2 separate regions of the Homo sapiens genome follow, and region 2 is linked to region 1. The links come from fine-mapping of genetic effects on gene expression. A gene starts in region 1. The other region holds a variant in brackets. All regions are shown on one strand. Distances are between the middles of the regions.

What was found. PIP is the estimated chance that this variant, and not a neighbour inherited with it, causes the effect.
Region 2: its variant is fine-mapped to the expression of LARP4B in whole blood (TOPMed, PIP above 0.99).

What each region holds. Positions count from the first base shown.
Region 1 is chr10:926,765-936,627 of GRCh38, forward strand. LARP4B (La ribonucleoprotein 4B) reads right to left here and starts at 4,941. Exons shown (of 18, transcript NM_015155.3): 1 at 4,664-4,941. LOC124902363 (keratinocyte proline-rich protein-like) reads left to right here and starts at 5,227. Exons shown (of 2, transcript XM_047426111.1): 1 at 5,227-6,351; 2 at 8,072-9,325. The coding sequence starts at 5,363. The coding sequence ends at 6,067. LARP4B-DT (LARP4B divergent transcript) reads left to right here and starts at 6,262. Exons shown (of 3, transcript NR_120629.1): 1 at 6,262-6,351. RefSeq lists silencers at 4,132-4,261, 4,352-4,431, 4,462-4,571, 4,642-5,351, 5,432-5,521.
Region 2 is chr10:805,383-815,245 of GRCh38, forward strand. It overlaps LARP4B (La ribonucleoprotein 4B), which reads right to left. Exons shown (of 18, transcript NM_015155.3): 16 at 9,564-9,688; 17 at 9,360-9,468; 18 at 4,115-7,831. The coding sequence ends at 7,544. Among named protein-coding and RNA genes, the nearest start is that of DIP2C, 120 kb to the left of the region's middle. RefSeq lists enhancers at 3,912-4,412, 4,413-4,913, 8,830-9,330, 9,331-9,831 and a silencer at 3,970-4,175. The variant A/T (reference allele first, on the strand shown) is at 5,596.

The DNA of each region.
Region 1 (9,863 bases):
AGTGGCTCACGCCTGTAATCCCAGCACTCTGGGAGGCCAAGGCAGATGGGTCACTTGAGGTCAGAAGTTCAAGACCAGCCTGGCCAACACAGTGAAACCCAATTTGTACTAAAGTACAAAAATTAGCCGGGCGTGGTGGCACGCACCTGTATGTAGTCCCAGCTACTCAGGAGGCTGAGGCAGGGGAATCGCTTAAACCCTGGAGGCAGAGGTTGCAGTGAGCCGTGATCGTGCCAGTGCGCTCCAGCCTGGGCAACAGAACGAGACTCGGTCTCAAAAAAAAAAAAAAAAATTGTGTTAAACATGAAATACTTTCAATATTGCAATGTACTCCATGGTCTAGGTCTCCTAACCAGGGCAATGGGGTTGATGGGAAAGAAGATGTAAAACCAGTAGCATCACTGAACTGCAAATCCTTTATGGTTGAAATAGGAGCCATGACAGCTTCACCAGAAAAACTATGAGAAGACAGAGTTTATAAAGGCATTGAAGGGACAAAAGGTATTAAGGTATGGGGTGGCGGGGGGGCAGTGAGAAAGAGAAGGGAAGGAAACACAGCTGAGTTAATAATTTTCCTTGTTCCTAAGGAAGGCATTTACACACAGGAAAAACAAAGCATTAGAACGTTAGGGGAAAAAACTTTCAAGTTGGAATTTATCTCCCTTCTTTTGAGAACCTAGCAGTTTTCTACCTTACAATTCCATGTTCTAAAAAAGGAATTCATTTTCCAATCAAAATAACTCTAGAAGTAGAGTAGTTACAAAGATATCAACCAGCATAAGAGCAAAAAGTTTAAACTGAACTAAACTCAGACCTGATGAGGTTAACTCTCTGAGTGCCTCATTTACTTCGTACTCTAAAATAAGCTTTTACAGAAAAAGGAGAACTCTTCACATCAATAAAGTTCTACAAAAGAGCATAAGCAAGGAAACCCTTACAGCAGTGTCTGTTTTTAACAAGGTATTTTCCAAAAACATGACTTCAGTGTTCATGTCTTCTCCCCATTGGAAAAAGGTTGTTTTGAGAATTTTGTAGAAGAAATTACAAGAATATACTCCAAGATTTTTGTGCAATTTATCAATCTGAAAAGAATATCCCTAAATCTGACAGAATCTATAAGAGTACTGTATGCATGATAAAAGCATATTTAAAACTTGTACCTTTGGCCAGGTACGCCGTGGCTCACGCCTGCAATCCCAGCACTTTGGGAGGCCGAGGCGGGCGAATCACCTGCGGTCAGGAGTTCAAGACCAGCCTGGCCAACATGGTGAAATCCCAACTCTACTAAAAATACAAAAAAAAAAAAAATTAGCCAGGTGTGGTGGAGGGCACCTGTAATCCCAGCTACTCGGGAGGCTGAGGCAGGAGAATCACCTGAACCCGAGAGGCGGAGGATGCAGTGAGCCAAGAACGCACCATTGCACTCCAGCTTGGGCGACAAGAGTGAAAGTCCGCCTCAGGAAAGAAAAAAAAAAAAAAACTTGTACCTTTAACACTAGGATAAAAACAAATGAAATCGATTGATGGTAACACATCTATACAGCTTTTTTACAACTTTGAGAGGCCCTAACATAGACAACACGTTACTAAGATTAGAAGACCTAGATTATAATCCTAGCTATCACTATTTTGACGGAAAATATGAATTTTAACATGACAATGAAATAACAGTGAAAGGAGTTTGTCAGCCACTCCTTGGCTGGTAACATCTACCATAGCCTATCACTACAAAAACTTGCAAATCTATGTAGAGTAGCTGCAGCTACCTGAAGGCACTGTTCATTGTAAACACCATTAACAATTTGATGTCCCAATTTGCATGTTTTGGGGGTGGGGGGAGACAAGGTCTCACTGTTGTCCAGGATGGAGTGCAGTGGCAGGATCATGGCTCACTGCAGCCTCAACCTCCCAAGCTCAAGCGATCTTCCCACTTCAGCTTCTCCAACAGCTGGACTACAGGTGTGAGCCACCATGCCTGGCTAATTTTTTGATTTTTTGGTAGAGATGAGGTCTCTCTATGTTGCCCAGGCTGGTGAACTCCTGGGCTCCTAAACTCACCTAGGCCTCCCAAAGTGCTGGGATTACAGGAATGAGCCACCTCACCCAGCCTGCACGTATTTTAGAACTACATTTTAAGATAATGTGAAGACTGCTTCATAAAAACACCTTAAATATATACTTGTCAAAACTTGTGCTTACTTATGGAAATTGCATTAAATTCAATAAATTCTTTAAATCTCACTTTTAAAAATGGCAATCTTCCCGAACATTAAACCAAATTACATTTCTCCCTGAATTTGCTGCCACTTAATTTCAGCTACTCTTCTACAGAATAGTACCCATGTTATCTTTTTTTCTGTCTGGTTCCTACTCAAAAAGAGTGGAACTGCTTTCTCCAAATATGCATTCTGTGCTCAGAAGCTGTTTTCTCTGCCCAGATACATGTGTAAACAAGCCAAAAAAAACAAAACAAAAAAACAAAAACAAAAACAAAACTTTCTGCTAATAGATTGACAGCTACAAGGTAGAATATTTTAAAAATTCAGTAAGCTGGGCGCAGTGGCTCACTCCTGTAATCCCAACACTTTGAGAGGCCAAGGCAGGTGGATCACTTGAGGCCAGGAGTTCGAGACCAGCCTGGGCAACATGCTGAAACCCCGTCTCTACTAAAAATACAAAAATTAGCCAGGTGTGGTGGCATGTGCCTGTAAATCCCAGCTACTCGGGGGGCTGAGGCAGGAGAATAACTTGAAGACCTAGGAGGTGGAGGTTGTAGTGAGTTGAGATCGTGTCACTGCACTCCATCCTGGGTGACAGAACAAGACTCCAACTCGGGGGGGGAAGAAAAAAATCAGTAATAGTGAAAATAGCAAAACCAGACAACATTTCCATGTTTGTGTTACAACAGTCCTAAGAAAATGAGATTATCATCATCCCCCTGTTACAATTGAGAAAATGTAGGCAACACGAGGGTAACTTCTAATGAATAAGCCATGCCTTTGTTTCATATAAATAAGTCAACTCAACTCACATTAACTTTTCAAAATACCGGATAAAATTTATTTCTAACCAATGCAAGTTTCAAAGATAAGTACACAAATTAAATTTATGATTAAATAATAAGCTTGTTAATCTGATGCCTTTCGGAACGCATTTCACTTAGCAAACCTCAATTAAGCTATTTCTTATATGGTTTGATTACAAAACTGCCTTTCAGCATATTAAATACAAGGAGAAAAAACTGAAAAGCCACAACGATTTCAACTTCTGTAAATTACCCTGACTGTAATGAGGGGCGCCAGGCAGGTTGGGGAAGTATGGAAATTGCACACTGCACACACCACCTGACCACCAAGAAAAAAGAGGACACCACTCTTCCCCACTGTGGTCTTCACAAACTACAACTCAGCACCTATTTCAAGTGCATTTAAATATTCAAACAACTGAAACTAAGAGAAAAAAACTTTCGAAAGGGAAAATAACTTGTCTGTCCCCTTCAATGTTCACCTTGGAGTTGCTCTCATCTCTAGAAAAAGGCCTCACGCATACTGTTTATACTTACAAACTCCACTGCCCTGTCAAGGAAAACCTTCCTGTTTTCTCAGTTATCCAAAACTTCAAACTTCCAATTTACTATTAAGACAAGTTATTGGGCATCCACTTAGAGAATCTCAAACGAAAGCCAGATAGGAGGTAGTTTTCTACAGCTAGGTTTCTCAAGTTTCATCTCAGCCAAGTTTTAAGAACGTTTTACGTAAAAATAAGGGGAAAAGCAAAATTACATTCGCATGAAGTTTCGACGCACAACGGCACTGAAACGGAAAGACTCTTCACGTTCCCAAGCGCACCCTGAGAGGCAGGTGCAGCAGCTTTCCGATGGCTTCTCTGCCGCCCATGTATCCCAGCCCCAAGACCAACACAGGCAATCTTCACATCTGACTTTATTTTTTTAACTCCTTCAGATCCACCTCTGCTCAAGTCTATCAACAGGAAAACAGGAGCGTTCCAAACACACACCGAGCAACAGGATCCCAACTTCCTGGTTCTAAAGGAATGCGATGCCCTGATGACCCGTCCCGCCCCGCACCCGCACGGCCGCCTATCCGGGCTCCGGCGGGACCGAGGAGCGAGTGGCAAGGCTGGCGCCGCACTGCGGGTGCCGGCGCCCGCCCGGCCTGGGGGCGCTCGCGGCCCGCGACCCCGGCCCCGCCCAGGCCCTGCCCGACCCCCGTCCTCGCCGGCCTTCGCCCAACCCCGGCCTCCCGACCCTGACCCCGGCCCGGTCTTCCGGGCACCCAGCTCCGTCGACTCCCGCCTCGCCTCAACGGGTCCTCCTAAGCCCCGGCCCCGGCCTTCCCCTGCCCCGGCCTCGGCCATCCTCAGCCCCAGTTTTCCCCTGCCCCGGCCCCGGTCCTCCTCAGCCCCGGCTTTTTCCTGGCCCTGACCCCGGTCCTCCTCAGCCCTGGCCCTTCCCGTGCCCTAGCCCCGGTCCTCCTCAACCCGGCCCCGGCCTTCCCCTGCCCCGGCCCCGGCCCCGGCCCAGGCCCGGCCCTGCCCGCCGCGGCCGCGTCCTCCGGGAAGATGGCGGCGCAGTGACAGGCGGCGCGGCGCGGGTCCGAGCTGGGCCGGGAGGGACGGCCCGCCGCGGCCCAGGGTGCCTCACCTGTCAGCGCCGCCGCCCCGCCCGACCGGCCGCCCGCGGGCTCCTCGCCTCAACCCCGGGGCCCGGCGGCCGCGCCACACGCGGGGACGGCGAGGAGAGAGACGGCAGGGAGAGGCGGCGCGGCCGGGCCGGGCCGGGCCGGAGGTAGGGGAGAGGGCGGGCGCGAGCTGGCGGCGGCGGCGGCGGCGGATTCTTCCCCTTTCGGGCCCGAAAATGTCTCAACCCCGGGACTCCAGATCCCCAACGCTCCTTCCCGTTCGCATGAGAACACACAGCTCCCACTTCCGGGGCCCTGCGGAAGTCCCGCCCCCGCGCGGACCCGCGCCTCGCGCCCTGAACTCGCGCACTCACCCGCCGGTCCCGCGGACTGGCGCTCAGCCCCGGGAGAGCCTCACGTCATGGTGTTGCGGCGCGCTGATTGGGCGCACCCGACGCTCGGCCCGCCCCGCCGCCTTCTTGGCCTCTCCGCGCGTACACCCTGCTCGCGGCCTTGCGATTGGCGCGTGCGCGCACATCGCCCCGCCCCGCGCACGCCGCACGTCCGCCCCGCCCGCCCCGCCCGCCCCGCCCGCCGTCCCCGGCGCGACCGGAGCGCCTGACGCTGGGGGGCCGTGTGGGCCCTGACTTCCGGAGGGCTGGGCCCTGGTCCTCCGCCACCGCGTGCGCCCCTTAAAGACCCCTGCCCGCCGCCCAGGACGGATGGCGACCCCGGCCCTAGCCTGTCCCCAGACCCTGGACCAAGGCCCCGGCCCTGCCCCGAACCCCTCATCCCACCCCCAGGACCCAGGCCCCGACCCTGGCCACCCAGGACACGCCCTGGCCCTTCCCCGAACTCCCACCCCACAGCTGGGATCAAGGTCCCGGCCCTGCCCGGAACACCTCACCCCACACCCGGGACCCAGGCCCCGGCCCTGCCCCGAACTCCCACCCCACACCCGGGACCAAGGCCCCGGCCCTGCCCCGAACCCCTCACCCCACCCCCGGGACCAAGGCCCCGGCCCTGCCCAGAACTCCCACCCCACACCCGGGACCAAGGCCCCGGCCCTGCCCAGAACTCCCACCCCACACCCGGGACCAAGGCCCCGGCCCTGCCCCGAAGGCCCCACCGGGGACCCAGGCCCCGGCCCTGCCCCAAACTCCCACCCCACACCCGGGACCAAGGCCCCGGCCCTGCCCCGAACGCCCCACCCGGGACCCAGGCCCCGGCCCTGCCCCAAACTCCCACCCCACACCCGGGACCAAGGCCCCGGCACTGCCCCGAACGCCCCACCAGGGACCCAGGCCCCAGCCCTGTCCCGAACTCCCGCCCCACACCTGAGACGAAGGTCCCGGCCCCGAAGTCCCAACCCCACACCCGGGACCAAGGCCCCGGCACTGCCCCGAACCCCCGCCCCACACCCCTAACCAAGGCCTCGGCTCAGCCCCGGAATCCCCAACCCCACACCTGGGATCAAGGCCCCGGCCCTTCCCCAAACCCCCAACCCACACCCGGGACCAAAAGGCCCCGGCCCCACGTTTCCTAGAGGCGCTGGGTTCGGGCCCACGTTGCAACGAGTCAGATGCTCTTGGTAGCTCAGGGAGGTGTTCACACTCCTGCCGTTTCCGTGAGGATGGTGACGACTCCGAACTATAGCAGCATACTCTACCTACCCCTGATCAGTTTATGGAAGAAAAGGAAACCAAACAAAGTATGTTGCGTTTCCCTTAAGCTTGCTGCCTGATTTTCTGGTTTCTGCTCTGATTGGCTACATATACACATATTATCAATTATTCCAAATTTTAGGTTTGTTCCCCCATTAAAACGGCTTTTCAGGGATACCATATTCATGGTTAACCGTGTACCTGTGCTTACAACTGCTTTTTTAATTTTGTTTTTTGATACAGGGTCTTGCTCTATGCAGGTCTGCACTCTGAGCTCAGAGTGCTGTCTCGGGCCCCCAAAATCTGGGATTAGAGATGGGAGCCGGTGTACCCAGCCTGTGCTTATAATTTTTCGTACTCAGCGTTCAAATGCTGACAATTCTGCATTTTGGAAGAAAGCCTCTCCGGCTTCCCATAGTGGGTAGACTGTTGACATCAAGGTTGGGTGCCTTCTTTGTGAAACCTTGTTGCATCCTAGCTTTAAGGGAATTTGCAAGTTAAATAATTATATTCATAGTAATGTTTTTAAAGAACATTTAACGACATAAGACACATTTCCTTTAATATTAAAAGCATGTACATATTTCAGAAAACTTGCTTACCTGGACAACCTGCCCTGACCAGTAGGCCATAGTGTCCTTGCTTAGGTGCCTGGTTCCTTTACCTCCACGGATAACCTACAGGAGCTTACTCTTGGTTCATAACATTGCTAGGGCCATTGATGTGGTATAAGTCTAGGAATTCTGCCCCAAAATTGGTAGGTTAAACTTTTTTTTTTTTTTGAGACTGACTCTCCCTCTGTCACCCCGGCTGGAGTGCCGTGGCATAATCTCGGCTCACTGCAACCTCAGTCTCCCGGGTTCAAGTGATTCTCCTGCCTCAGCCTCCGGAGTAGCTGAGACTACAGCCGCATGCCACCACGCCCAGCTAATTTTTTGTATTTTTAGTAGAGATGGGGTTTCACCGTGTTAGCCAGAATGGTCTTGATCTCCTGACCTCGTGATCCGCCTGCCTCAGCCTCCCTAAGTGCTGGGATTACAGGCGTGAGCCACCGTTCCCGGCTGGTAGGTTAAACTTCAATCTTTTTTGTCTATGTCTACATTCCAGCAGACATCTATGTCTTACCTATTACAAAAGAAAGTAATGGGATGGGTTCAGTGGCTCATGCCTGTAATCCCAGCACTTTAGGAGGCCAAGGCAGGCAGATCGCCCAAGGCCAAGAGTTCAAGACCAGTCTGGGCAATATGTCAAAGCCCCATTTCTTTAAAAAATTATACAAAAGTAGCCGGGCATGTGGTGCATGGCTGTGGTTCCAGCTACTCAGGAGGCTGAGGTGGGAGGATCGCTTGAGGTTGAGGCTGCAGTGAGCTGTGATTGTGCCACCGCATTCCAGCCTGGGTGACAGAGCGAGACCCTGTCTCAAAAAAAGAAAAAGAAAAAAACTAAAACTAAAAGAATTCCATCTCTTCTTTCTCTTCGTATTGTGTAATCCTTTCCAACAATCAGAACTGGGCTTTTTGTTCCCTCATGATCTTCTTTTTTTCAAACCTGTGTCTCAGAAGAAACATCCATTTTCACCTTGAGATGTGAGGTTATAACATGAAATACATTTTCATGGCATCTCTCCTTAGACAAGATCAGTTTTTTAAAACTTTAGTATAAATTTCTCAAACCATGATCAGATACACTCCCTCATTTCCCATGTCAAGTGGTTACAAATTCTGTCAATCCTACCTAAAAACTCTTTCCTTCTCCCCGTCCCCCCAGTGGTTTTGCCGTTGTTACTGCTCACCTGGTTTGATTCAGTGGCGTCGCGGTTGGTCTCTGCTACAGTCCATTACTCACAGTGCCAGCACATGTTTCCTTAAAAAGCTTCATCACCATCCTCCTGCAATGCGACCTTCACCGGCTCCCCGTTGCCTGCCCAGGAGGATAAAGTCCAAGTTCTCCTGTGGAAAGAAGACCCTTCACACGCTAGTCCCAGCCTGTCTTCAGCCCAGCCCCCTGTGTTTCCTTTCCTGCCTTATCCTAAGACATCCTTACCTTCCAATCACACTCACTTTCCGAGCATTTTTGAAGGTATTGAGGGAGTTGATGAGTCTACACTTGAATAAAATACAGACTTTACACTCCAGACTGCACAGTTGACAGGTAAGTCCACAGTTCATAGTGTGGACAGTCCTATACAAAGAAATGGAGAGGTGCCCCAGCTCCAGACGCTGCGCTGCTCTGGAAGTCGAGGGCGGCATTCTTTTGGAGCCTGAGCACTTAGGTCCTAATGGATGTGAGTCCCCTGGCCTCAAATGTGCTTCCTGTACTTGGATGTCTCCTTCTGGCGGAATCTCGCTTATTTTTCAAGTTACAGCCCAAATGTCAACCACTGAAGTGTTTTAGACAGTTGATTTTCCTTCTGGGCCCTATTATTAGCACTTGTTTGTAGCTCTGTTGAGCTACATCACATCATACAATTTTCAGCTGACACTACTGTCATCCCAAAGAAATGGTCAGGCCTCAAGGGCAGAGGCAGCGAGGGCAGTGATCTTGGGACAAAGTCTCTACCAAACAAATACAGCATGTGTATTTCTCTAGCAGAGGCCTACATTTCAAGTGGTGTCTGAGAACATTCTTTTCTTTTTCTTTTTTCTTTTCTTTTCTTTTTTTTTTTTTTTTTTTTGAGTCTCCCTCTGTCTCCCAGGCTGGAGTGCAGTGGCACAATCTTGGCTCACTGCAACCTGCGCCTACCGAGTTCAAGTGATTCTCCTGCCTCAGCCTCCCGAGTAGCTGGGATTACAGGGATGCACCATGATGCCCAGCTAATTTTTGTTGTTTTTTTTTTTTGTTTGTTTTTTGTTTTTAGTAGAGTCAGGGTTTCACCATGTTGGTCAGGCTGGTCTCGAACTCCTGACCTCAAGTAATCTACCTGCCTCCGCCTCCCAAAAATGCTGGGATTACAGGTGAACATTCTTTTATTTTATCCCGAAGCATTTTCTGTGAAAAAATAAACACTACTTCTCCAATGTGTAGCCGCATTGCTCAAAAATTCATTTTTGATGATTTAGGACTATTCCTTTGCCCATTGATTAAACAAATATTCACTGAGTACCTACGCGGTCTCAGGGACTGCTAATGTTGCAGAGATCAGGGGAGCATCACAGATGAGAAGCAGGTAACGAGGGATGGAGGGTGAGGATGAGGGATGGAGGGTGAGGTGAGGCTGTGTAGAGTGCTTGGGTGGCTCACAAGCGGGGTCCAAGCCAACTTAAGAAGGAACCAGAAAATGATGACTAAGCCGGGGCCAGAGACAAACCATCCACGAGAAGGACACAGGTGGGAAGAAGGAGGCAGTGAGTCACGATTTACTACGAGGCAGGCCAGACACAGTAGCTCAAACCTATAATCCCAGCATGTTGGGAGGCCGAGGCGGGTGTATCATCTAATGTCAGGAGTTCGAGACCAGCCTGGCCAACATGGTGAAACACCTGTCTCTAGCAAAAATACAAAAAAATTAGCTGGGCGTGGTGGCGGTCGCCTGTAGTCCCAGCTACTCGTGAGGCTGAGG
Region 2 (9,863 bases), 120 kb before region 1:
AGAGGCCGACACAGACGGCGGCAGGTGTGCGTGGTGAGGCCGCCCCACGCAGGGATGGGAGGGGCGCGCAAGCCGGGACTTGAACCTGCACTGGCTGAGCTGTGGACGCGGCCTGGCGGCCTCTGCGGAGCGCCCTCTGCGGAGCTGCCTCTGGCACCTGTCCACAGCGTCTGGACACCGGGCGAGGAATGGACCCGGAAGCGTCCCCTGCCCAGGGGGTGCTGCAGGTACCCAGGGGAAGAGCATTCACGGGTGCCAGGCCCAAGGGGCTCACGCCAGAAGTAGACCAATTAGACGACTACAAACGGTGCTCAGTGCTGCAGAAGCAGCCGGGGACAGGCGGCTGTCGGAGAGGGCGCCAGGCATCTCTGGGAAGGGAGAAACAAATTCCACGGGAAGGGGCCAGCAGGTCCCAGGCAGCATGGGCAGAGAGTGTGGGGTCAGGGATGAAGTTGCAGGTGGGTTGGGGAGTGACTTGCAGGCGCGCGTCTAAACCTTATTTCTTCCTGCAGGAAACCATTGGAGCGTTTAAAGCAAGGGAACAGGGCGCGCTCACTACCACAAAAGAACCCTCGGGCTAGGTGGAGAACGGGGCAGGGAGACTGGCGACGAGATGGCCGGGCTGGACTCTCGGAAGGATCTGGGGAAGAACCAAGACTGGCCCAGGATTTGGGCTTGCCTGTCTGCGTCGGGGCTGCCCGTGGAGATGGGGTTCCGGTGAGGAGCAGGAGGATCCAGGCCGGAGGGTGGGTGGTCCCATCTGAAATGTGGACTGACTGCAGGTGGCCACGCCAAGGACACAGTGAGACATGGGCTGGAGGCTGAGCAGGCTGGGGCTGAGGAGCTCGAATGTACTGAGTGGACGTATTAGTTACCCCTTCTTTCTTAATGGCCCCAATTTTGTTCAGGGACCCCTCTCTCCAGTCACCATGCACCTTGGGGGAGGTGGCCCCACTCCTGAGCCCAGGATGGACCTCACTGACCTGAAAGCCCCTTCCCCGTGACGGCGTTTGGATCCTAAATCTAGCCAGTAAGATGTGCAATTTACTGGCAACTTGTTTCCTTATTCCCAAAGCCACACAAAAAGAAACTCGTCTCCCCACCCCCACCCCGAGGTTAAGATGTCTGGCTGCAACACTCCCAGCTGCCGCACACTCCTGCTGCCTGCCAAGGACGCTGCCACCACGGTGGCCCGGCCCGACAGCAGCATGGAGCTCTGCCTTCCTCTGCAGGGGACAGTACATTGCACCTGCCCCCGGGCCCAGGCTGCGGCCTCTGTGCTTCCAGGCTGATGGATTTCAGCTGGCATGGAAAGTGCGGCATTGCACGAAGTAGAAAGGTGTGGGCCTGGAAGAAACTACCCAGTAGCAAAGGGCAGACACTGAAGAGGGCACTGCCCCCACTGGCCTCAGGAAACGGGAGGCGCAGCAGCAGGAGAAGGTCAACTGGGAGCTGAGAGCACGAGAGGACTGAGAATTGGCAAATTACAATCTCCAGGAAGGCAAAGAGAAAAAAGAAACAGAGCAGCAGGGAAGAGAAAGGGCAGATGTAATTGGTCCATACGCAACAGTTAGAAGACTGAGGCTGGCAGAGTGGATTACAAACACCCACCACTCCGTGCTGTCCACAGACAACTCCCTTCAGACAGGGCACAGGCGGGCTAAAAGTCAAAGGATGAAAAACGGCACGTTACACCGACAGGAGTGAAAAAGAAAGAGCTGGAATGCCTTTGTTACTGTCAAAACTTCAGAGCAAAGACAATTACTTGGGTCCAGGGTCCTAATGACAGATCAGTCCAACGAGAAGACACGGTGATCCTAAATGTGCATGCGTGGAGTATGTCCCGTTAGGACAGGGGTGAGGAACAGGCTGCGGCTGCCCACACTTGTAAGCGCCCCACATTTCTGCACGCGTAGCTAACGTTAGAGAGAGTCTTTCTATACACTCACATCCTATGTAGTAAACACAGTGAGCTTCGGCTGGGAAAAGCGGCTGCTCCGGCCGAGGAAATCCTGGTCGTGAATGAAAATGCATCTCTGTGGGCCCTCACAGGCCCACGCAGAGGTGAATGAATTTGGCTGTCTTCTGCATCTGCATCTCCTGGACGCTCACTGATCTGCCCCAGGGCCTGGTGGTTGCTGTCCCAGCTTGGTCCTGCAAGCCCCTCTGGGTGGAGCTGCTCACCCCGTGCTCCGGGGCTCACGCCTGCAGGGAGGCCCAGCCTGTATCAGGATCCTCTTCACAACCTCCTGACCCCACCGGGCGGCCCTGCGGCCCTCCAGCTCCACCAGGGCAGGGCTAAGCCTCTCCGGCTGGCCTGGCATATATGCTCCGAGACATCACACACTTGGATATGGCCTGGGCTGACATAAGTTCCATAAGCACCTGAAGGCTGGTGCACGAGGGTCTCTGGCTAAGCCACTGCACGCTTAGGCTGTGCCCTTCCTTCCTGGCCTATGGTCTCACCTGCTGTCCCTCCTCTCCGTGGTGGAGACACCCACACACCTTCGTCTAAGCAGACCAGCAGTTGACTTGGATCGGAAACGGCTTGTGCCCAAGCAGGCCCAGCAACACACGTGGTCCTTCTTCAGTTGGTTCAATCCAATGCTTTAGAGAAACACGGGATTTTAGCATTATTAAAAGATGTGGATATAGCAAGGAATGGAATACAACAACTTCAGACTTTGGTGGGTGGAGGCGGAATACGTAAACCTCTGACAGCCATGAGGAGACCGAGCCCTGGCTCTCTTGTGGGACCTGCTGACCCCAGCAGAGCCCTGCAGACAATCCACAGATACACGGTGGTCACTTCCATCCAGGGAGTTCTGGCAGGGTTTGTTATGTGGCAACAGCAAGTCAATACCTCATCCTAGTTCTTCCCAGGGCAGTGCTGTGCACAGAGAAGACACAAAATATACTTCGAGTTAATACACATTTACCGAGTATCTGCTAATTTGCAGATGGCGTGCTAAGGACAAGGGAGAGGCTGGTGATCCAGATGGCATAATTCCTGCCCTCAGGGAGCACAGTTAATCATACTTTGATGAGTTCTATGAAGGAAATTCTCAGCAACACAGGATGACGGGTGAGTTAAATGCTATGGTGTTAGGACAGAAAGGGAAATAGGCAGTGTAGAATAGAGACCCTAGAGACCCCAGGTGGAGATCCATGCACACGTGGGAAGTCTGCAAGTAACAGAAGCAGCACTGCAGACCAGTGGAGAGACAGTGAACTCACTGGTGATACTGGAAAAAGAAACTTTCCACATGGCATAAAGTAAAACTGGGTTCCTGCCTAAGCACGCACACCACACACACGATTAGGCCCAGCTGGATTAAAAGCGTGTGTGTGTGTGTGTGCGTGTGCACGCACACACACACACACACGCACACATACACACACACTATTAACTTTATGACCCTGGAGTAGGGAAAGGCTTCTTAAGCAAGTCCAAGACACTCAACAAAGGAGAAGATTGATAGATTTTACTACACAATAATTAAACACCGTAAAAGATACTATTCTAAATAAAGAGTTAAGACAAATGGTAGATTGAAAGAAAATATTTGTAACATATATGACAAAGGATTAATAGCCTTAACAGATCAAGAATATTAATTCCATCAGAAAAAGAGTAAAAATGGGAAGACGACATGAAAAGGCAATGCACAGAGGAGGAAGGCAGCAACATGTTAATCAGTCCCCCATCCACTCGGTGCCTGGCACAGGAGGGGCCCCGCCTCCCGCCAGCCTCTTCCTAGTGCAGACATCACTGCTGCCTAAGGATGAGTCCATCACCATGAAGACCCAACGTTAGCTCCAAACAGCTTCATGGACACAGCTTTGGAGAGAGTGCCATTTTAACAAAATCAAAGTCCTGATACAGGAACATGTATTTTTGCAGTACATCTTGGCAGTCACAGTAATGGCTGTCTCCGCATGAGCATCTGATGTTAATGCTCACTCTGAACCACTAAAACACAAAGGGTGAGCCCCGTGTGCCACAGCCAGCCCCCACGTAGGTGAGAAGGCTTTAGGATCCAATCATATATGAGGCCCGTGTTTCTTTCTCATGCACTTATGGGAACAGACAAAAAACTATGTTTAGAAAAGATGCATTATTGAAGAAATTTTAATTTAAAAAAAATCAAAAGAAAAATTGAACAGTGCCTAAATCTTTATTTTCATAACCTACATTTTTTTTCAAATTAGACAGTTTTACACTGAATGACACAAAAGGAAACTTAAATTACCAATAGTTTACATGTAAGCTTGATTCCAGTCTTAATGAAGCAGAACAAAAACGAAACCCTCGAGGAGCGACCACATGACCCCCGCGCTGTGAGCTGCTGGCGGCCAGCGCCCTCGCCTCGATTGTCTGCAGCCCTGTAGTGGGCCGCGAGGCACGCAAGCCGCAACTACAGCTCGCCAGCGGGGCACACAGACAGGCATGCACCACCACTACCCGTCGCCCGGATACACTGAACTGGTTTTGAAGCCTGAACTGCAGAGATCCTAATATAGCAACGCAGGACGTTTACGGCCACCCGCCAGTGACAGCCGGTGATGTGATGACAGGAGGGCCTGGGTGAAAATGTCAAGACACTCACTCTCAGAGAACGACGACTCCACTTGAAATTCATGTCTGGTGAAACGGGACCAGGTTTTTATTCTTCTATTTCAAAATGATAAGCATCATCACACGATTTTACAAGTTAAAATGCCATTTGTCACTGCTGCATCTCTGATTCTATAACCTGAGATACTGCTGGGGGTAAAGGAGGGTGTTAACTTAAAAAAAAAAAAAGTATGAAAGCCACTCTCATCGCTGTATGTGACACAGCACAGTTGGCATGGACCGCCACAGCTTCCTATTATGATAACTCTCATTTTCTTCTGAGCAGAAACTCTTGAAGTAGTATCAGGTTTTTTCAGACATTATATAGCAATCTGTATTTCACCTTTAATTAAAAAGGATGCTATAAAAATCACCTCCGAGCAACGTTTCAGTTCTTGATGCAGAAGACTGCTGCTGGCTAGGCAGTAACTACAGTGTATTGACCGGAGGGCAGCAGAGCCCTCCAGTGGCGACTGGCTAATGCACGCGCTGCCCTCCTCATGCAGCTGTTGAGCTCCCACTTCGGTCGACAAAGTGAAGGACTAAGCTGGCTCTAACCACACACACACACTGCGCTGCAATGCTCACACCTTGGGGGAAAGGACTTCTCATTATTAAAAACCAAGGACTCACTGGCGGACGGGCAGGCCTTGTGTTTTGGGAATGGCTGATGGCGCCCTGGCCCTTCCGTAGCGAAGATGCAGCTCGTAGGCCCAGGCCTCGAGGTTGCCTCCCAGCTTTCTGAGTATTGAGAGTTTGGGTTTCACAGATCAATTATTTCTGATTTTTTTTTTTTTTTTGGTCAGTGAACTGACAACTACAAAAAAAAATCCCCATGTTCTTTAAAATGCATTTGAAAAACACTAGCCCTGTGGCTATTTCTCTGTATTTGAATAATGGCAACTGCTTTAAAGGAAATGGTCAAATAGGCATGTTTTCCTCTGGCAGGGTCAATCATGCTTAGCTGCAGGTGATTT[A/T]AATTAGATTACTAGTCACCTTCACTTACGATCCTGCCAGTTTTTGCTCTCTATATACTTTAAAACTCTTTCACATTAGATATGATTAGTATGCATTTACATACATTTTAAAAGAGTATGAAAACATCTGGAGGCTTTTAATAAGACTTTCCAATTCCCTTTTGCAGCAAAGAGGCAGAATCAGTTCAACACACCGATGTAAGAGAAAAAAGAAAATCTCAACAAATCAAAATAATATTCAAACCACAACATTTAGTTTATCTACATCCCGCTCAACAGCAACATTTATAATATATCAATAATCTGTATCAGAATTTTCTCTGTAGGGTACCTTTTTCATATGTTCTGATTATTTACAACTGTACAAGCGAAGCACACTCCAAGTGCACGTATTTAATACAGTATTGACTATTTGCATTTACAGGATTTTCCAACATTCTGAAAAAAGATCAACTGTTGAAGATCTTTAAGGTATATTACAAAAACTACTACTAGCTCTTGTACTACAGTATGCTTACTCAGTAAAACTAGCGACAGGAGATCCACGCAGTAACTGAGTAACTCTGACCCACTCACGCCAACCCAGGGCCGGGCTCCATGGACTCTAAGCTGTCTTATACAAAAGTTAAGGCAAAGTCATTTTCAAGTTTAAATAAAATTCAAGTCTTTAAATATTGGATGGAAATAATTTTTTCTTAAAAAAAACCCTCAGTCTTGTTAAATAACATTTTGTGGAATAAAGTGTATGGTTACATTTAGCAGGAAATATTCTTATTTTAATGTTTGCTGCTTAGAATAAAGAAAAATTTGAGGCATTTTAAAACAAAATAATTTATATTTAACTTTATTATAAACTTGCTAACTTTAGTGCATCCTTGTTCTTCAGAAGTGCAGCACTTCTGGAAGTGAATCAATGAGGCCCTCGTCTTGGAGGTAAAAGAGCAGGAACTTTATCCTCCACCAGCCAAAGAGGGGGAAAAACCACAAACACCATTCTCTCACGATTACATAACTCTTAAATCCATGTGCTGATGCAGAGGTACAGGGAGATGTCCACACGGAGCTGAAGATGTGGACTCTCTCCAACCAGAGTGCTGGGGAACACGGACAGAAATGTGCACAGAGCAGGGCCGGGGCCATCAGCTCACAGGGGTCAAAACAACATCATGGTACAACTTCTGGTAACATGTCAGTGGGCAACAAAGTGTATGTTTTCATGTAGGTTCTATTCACAATGTGCTTTGAATTTATATTACATAATAGCCACTTGAAACTGGAGTGAGAAGCTGGTTACTTGCTTGCAGTGCATCAGAACCAAGGTTTCTGGGGTGGCCCCTGCAGGTTCACTCCGCCCAGGAGATCAAAAAGGATGCGCTCTCTACATTCTTAAATGCCACAGTCCCCTACCAACGGCTTAGGTGGAAGCACAGCTCCCACATCAGCACTGATGCCCTGGCGCGGCCAGCACTGCCTCTACGAGGCCACACCTGCCTCTGCCAAGGCCACTGGCCCTCATTCATCTGCGGGGACGTTCTAGAGATATGCACTTACAGACCAGTTACTTAAAAAAAAAAAAAAAAAGCAGAGTTCCCTTAATTTAGAAAAACTCACTATATATAGCTTGCATTCAGAGCCACATGGAGGCTTAATAAAAAATACCAATTTGTTAGGATAAATGCTTTTTCTATCTTGGAAAAAAAAATCAGACTTATGCATCACCTCCAGTTAAGCACCAACCTAAAATAAGGTTTGTATTAATTAAATCCTGAAAAATCGATTTTTTTTCAAGAGGGGGAGAATCCAACTCACAGAAGAAAACCAACTTGAGGATCCCACAGGCCTCAGACACTGCAAGCTCCTAACCAGCGGCTCGCCCTCGCACTGAGTGGGAGAGTGTCTCGTTTGTGGTTAACACAGCGCTCTGCGACCCCTCCCAGACGTACGGTTTTCACTGAGGAGACTTGGGGGGAGTGCTCTGCTCTCGGCTGAGACGCTTCCCCATGGCCGAGGGCGAGGGCCGGCCCCCCGCCGGCCGCCTCTGGTCTCTGGGGGCTCCAGGTGTGGACTTGAGGGCTGGGGGCTCCCGGTATCTCTCTGCGGGCTCTGCCAGCTTCTTTTCCTCCTTCCCACAACCAACAGTGTTTGGCTTTTGTTCTTTTTGGGGTTGCAATGGGGAAGAAGGAGGCTCTTTACTCGTTCTCTGACAAATCTCTGCGTAGCTGGGCTTTCGCAATTCCTGGAAACAGACAATCCTGGGTTACCTGTGTGAAATGGTGTCTCTAGGGACAAGACAGGAAATCAAGTTCACTTAAGATAAAAGAGTTTTCAACTGTAACTAAGTTTCCATCTTCACTAGTGTTTTTAACTTTTAAAAAGTTCATAAAATCTAATGATTTAGTTTCCCCTGCAGCAGAACACTCCCTCTGTGCTACTGTAGTAATGGATAAAATTAGAAAAGGCATGACGAAGAAGAGTGCTGACTCAACACCATCCCTACCCAGCCCTATGCCTGCTTGGGCAATGCGGAAGCCTAGGAAGAGTCCGGATGCTGCCCACACTGGCTCCGCCAGCTCAGGACAACAGAAGGGTGTCCCAGGTGCCCACGGTGGGCAATGGACCCTCACACGGTACTCAACCCTGAAAGGCAAACTCCAAAAACAGTCTTTAAATAAAAATGTTTTGCACATTTCAAACTACAAAGGACTGGAAATATCTAAGAATGATGAAGACAGCTAAAATCTTCAAGAAATGTGTAATAGGGTTTTCAGGTAAGTGGAAGCATAAAGACTAAATAACAGAAAAGTAAAATATTTCCCTTAATAACTTTTTTTTTTTTTTTTTTGAGACACAGTCTCACTCTGTCGCACAGGCTGGAGTGCAGCAGTGCAATCTCAGCTCACTGCAACCTCTGCCTTCCGGGTTCAAGTGATTCTCCTGCCTCAGCCTCCTGAGTAGCTGGGACTACAGGTGCCCACCACCAAACCCAGCTAATTTTTTGTATTTTCAGTAGAGACAGGGTTTCACCATGTTGTTCAGGACTGTCTGGATCTCCTGACCGCATGATCTGCCTACCTCGGCCTCCCAAAGTGCTGGGATTACAGGCGTGAGCCACAGCACCTGGCCTCTTTTATTATTATTATTATTTATTATTAAAATTATTAATTTTAACCTATAAAAAATCCTTTTTTAGACTCAGCCCAGGGGACAGTAAGGGATTAAACTCCCAAATTCAAGGAAAAGGCTCCCCCAAGATCAAACTACAGAGGCCACAACTCAGAGTAAGAGAGGCCACAGTTCACCCAGTAGGGAAAACAGCAGAAAGGAAGTCGCTGGGGTTCAGGCCTGCTGGGCCCACAGGGGTTGGAGGCTGGTGGGGCCACCATCTTGCTCTTCCTGTCTCTTCATCAGACACACGATGCGCGCGCACGCACGCAAACATACACACACGCGCGAAATGCTGAAATGATCCTAAAGTCTATGGAGAAACAGGAGCTGGGGTCTTGTTACTACTCAAGAAACCTCTATTGACCAACACTGAAATAAAAGGACTACATGGTGGTCTGAGAAAGAACTAGAGTAGTTAGTGGAAAATTATTAGCAAATATTAAAGGTATTTTGTACAGAAAACACAACACAGACAGACGCAAATAAAAACCCACCAAATTAGATGTGATTAAAAAACGAGCAGGTGCAGGAGTGCGCAGCGTCTGTTCACACCAGAGCCTCGCGGCTGTCGTGCAGGAAGGCAGGCACGAGGTACGTACCGTGGCGGCTCCGTTCACCTGCACCGATTTACACGCGGTCGCAGTGAGGGCGGAAGGAAGTCTGTCCACACTGTGGGTTTCCCTCTGTTTCTCCGCCACCTTGGGATCACTGTAAAAATGCCACCCGATATTTGAATCTCATGCAACATCACAGGCCATTCAAGTCAGTCAACACCAAGGCGCTGGAAGAACACCAATACTCACTCGGGTAAATGAGCTGGGGAGGGGGATCGCTCGTACGTTGCTGATACAGCACAAGAAGCCGGCACCGAGGGCTCTCTGGAGACCACTACAGGAAGGGTGTTCACGCTTGCGTCTGCACTGAGGGTCTGAAACAGGGTCAAGAGTGTTCATCAGAGTCCTGCCGGCACTAAGCGGAGCTGGTACCAGTGCCCGTTCACCCCACCCGTGAACAGCCTTGGGAGAGCAGCACAAGGACATAGGGGAAGAGGGTCTTCTCCAGCAAAAATGTCACAGAGCCCAGGACTATCCTCTGCCCCACAG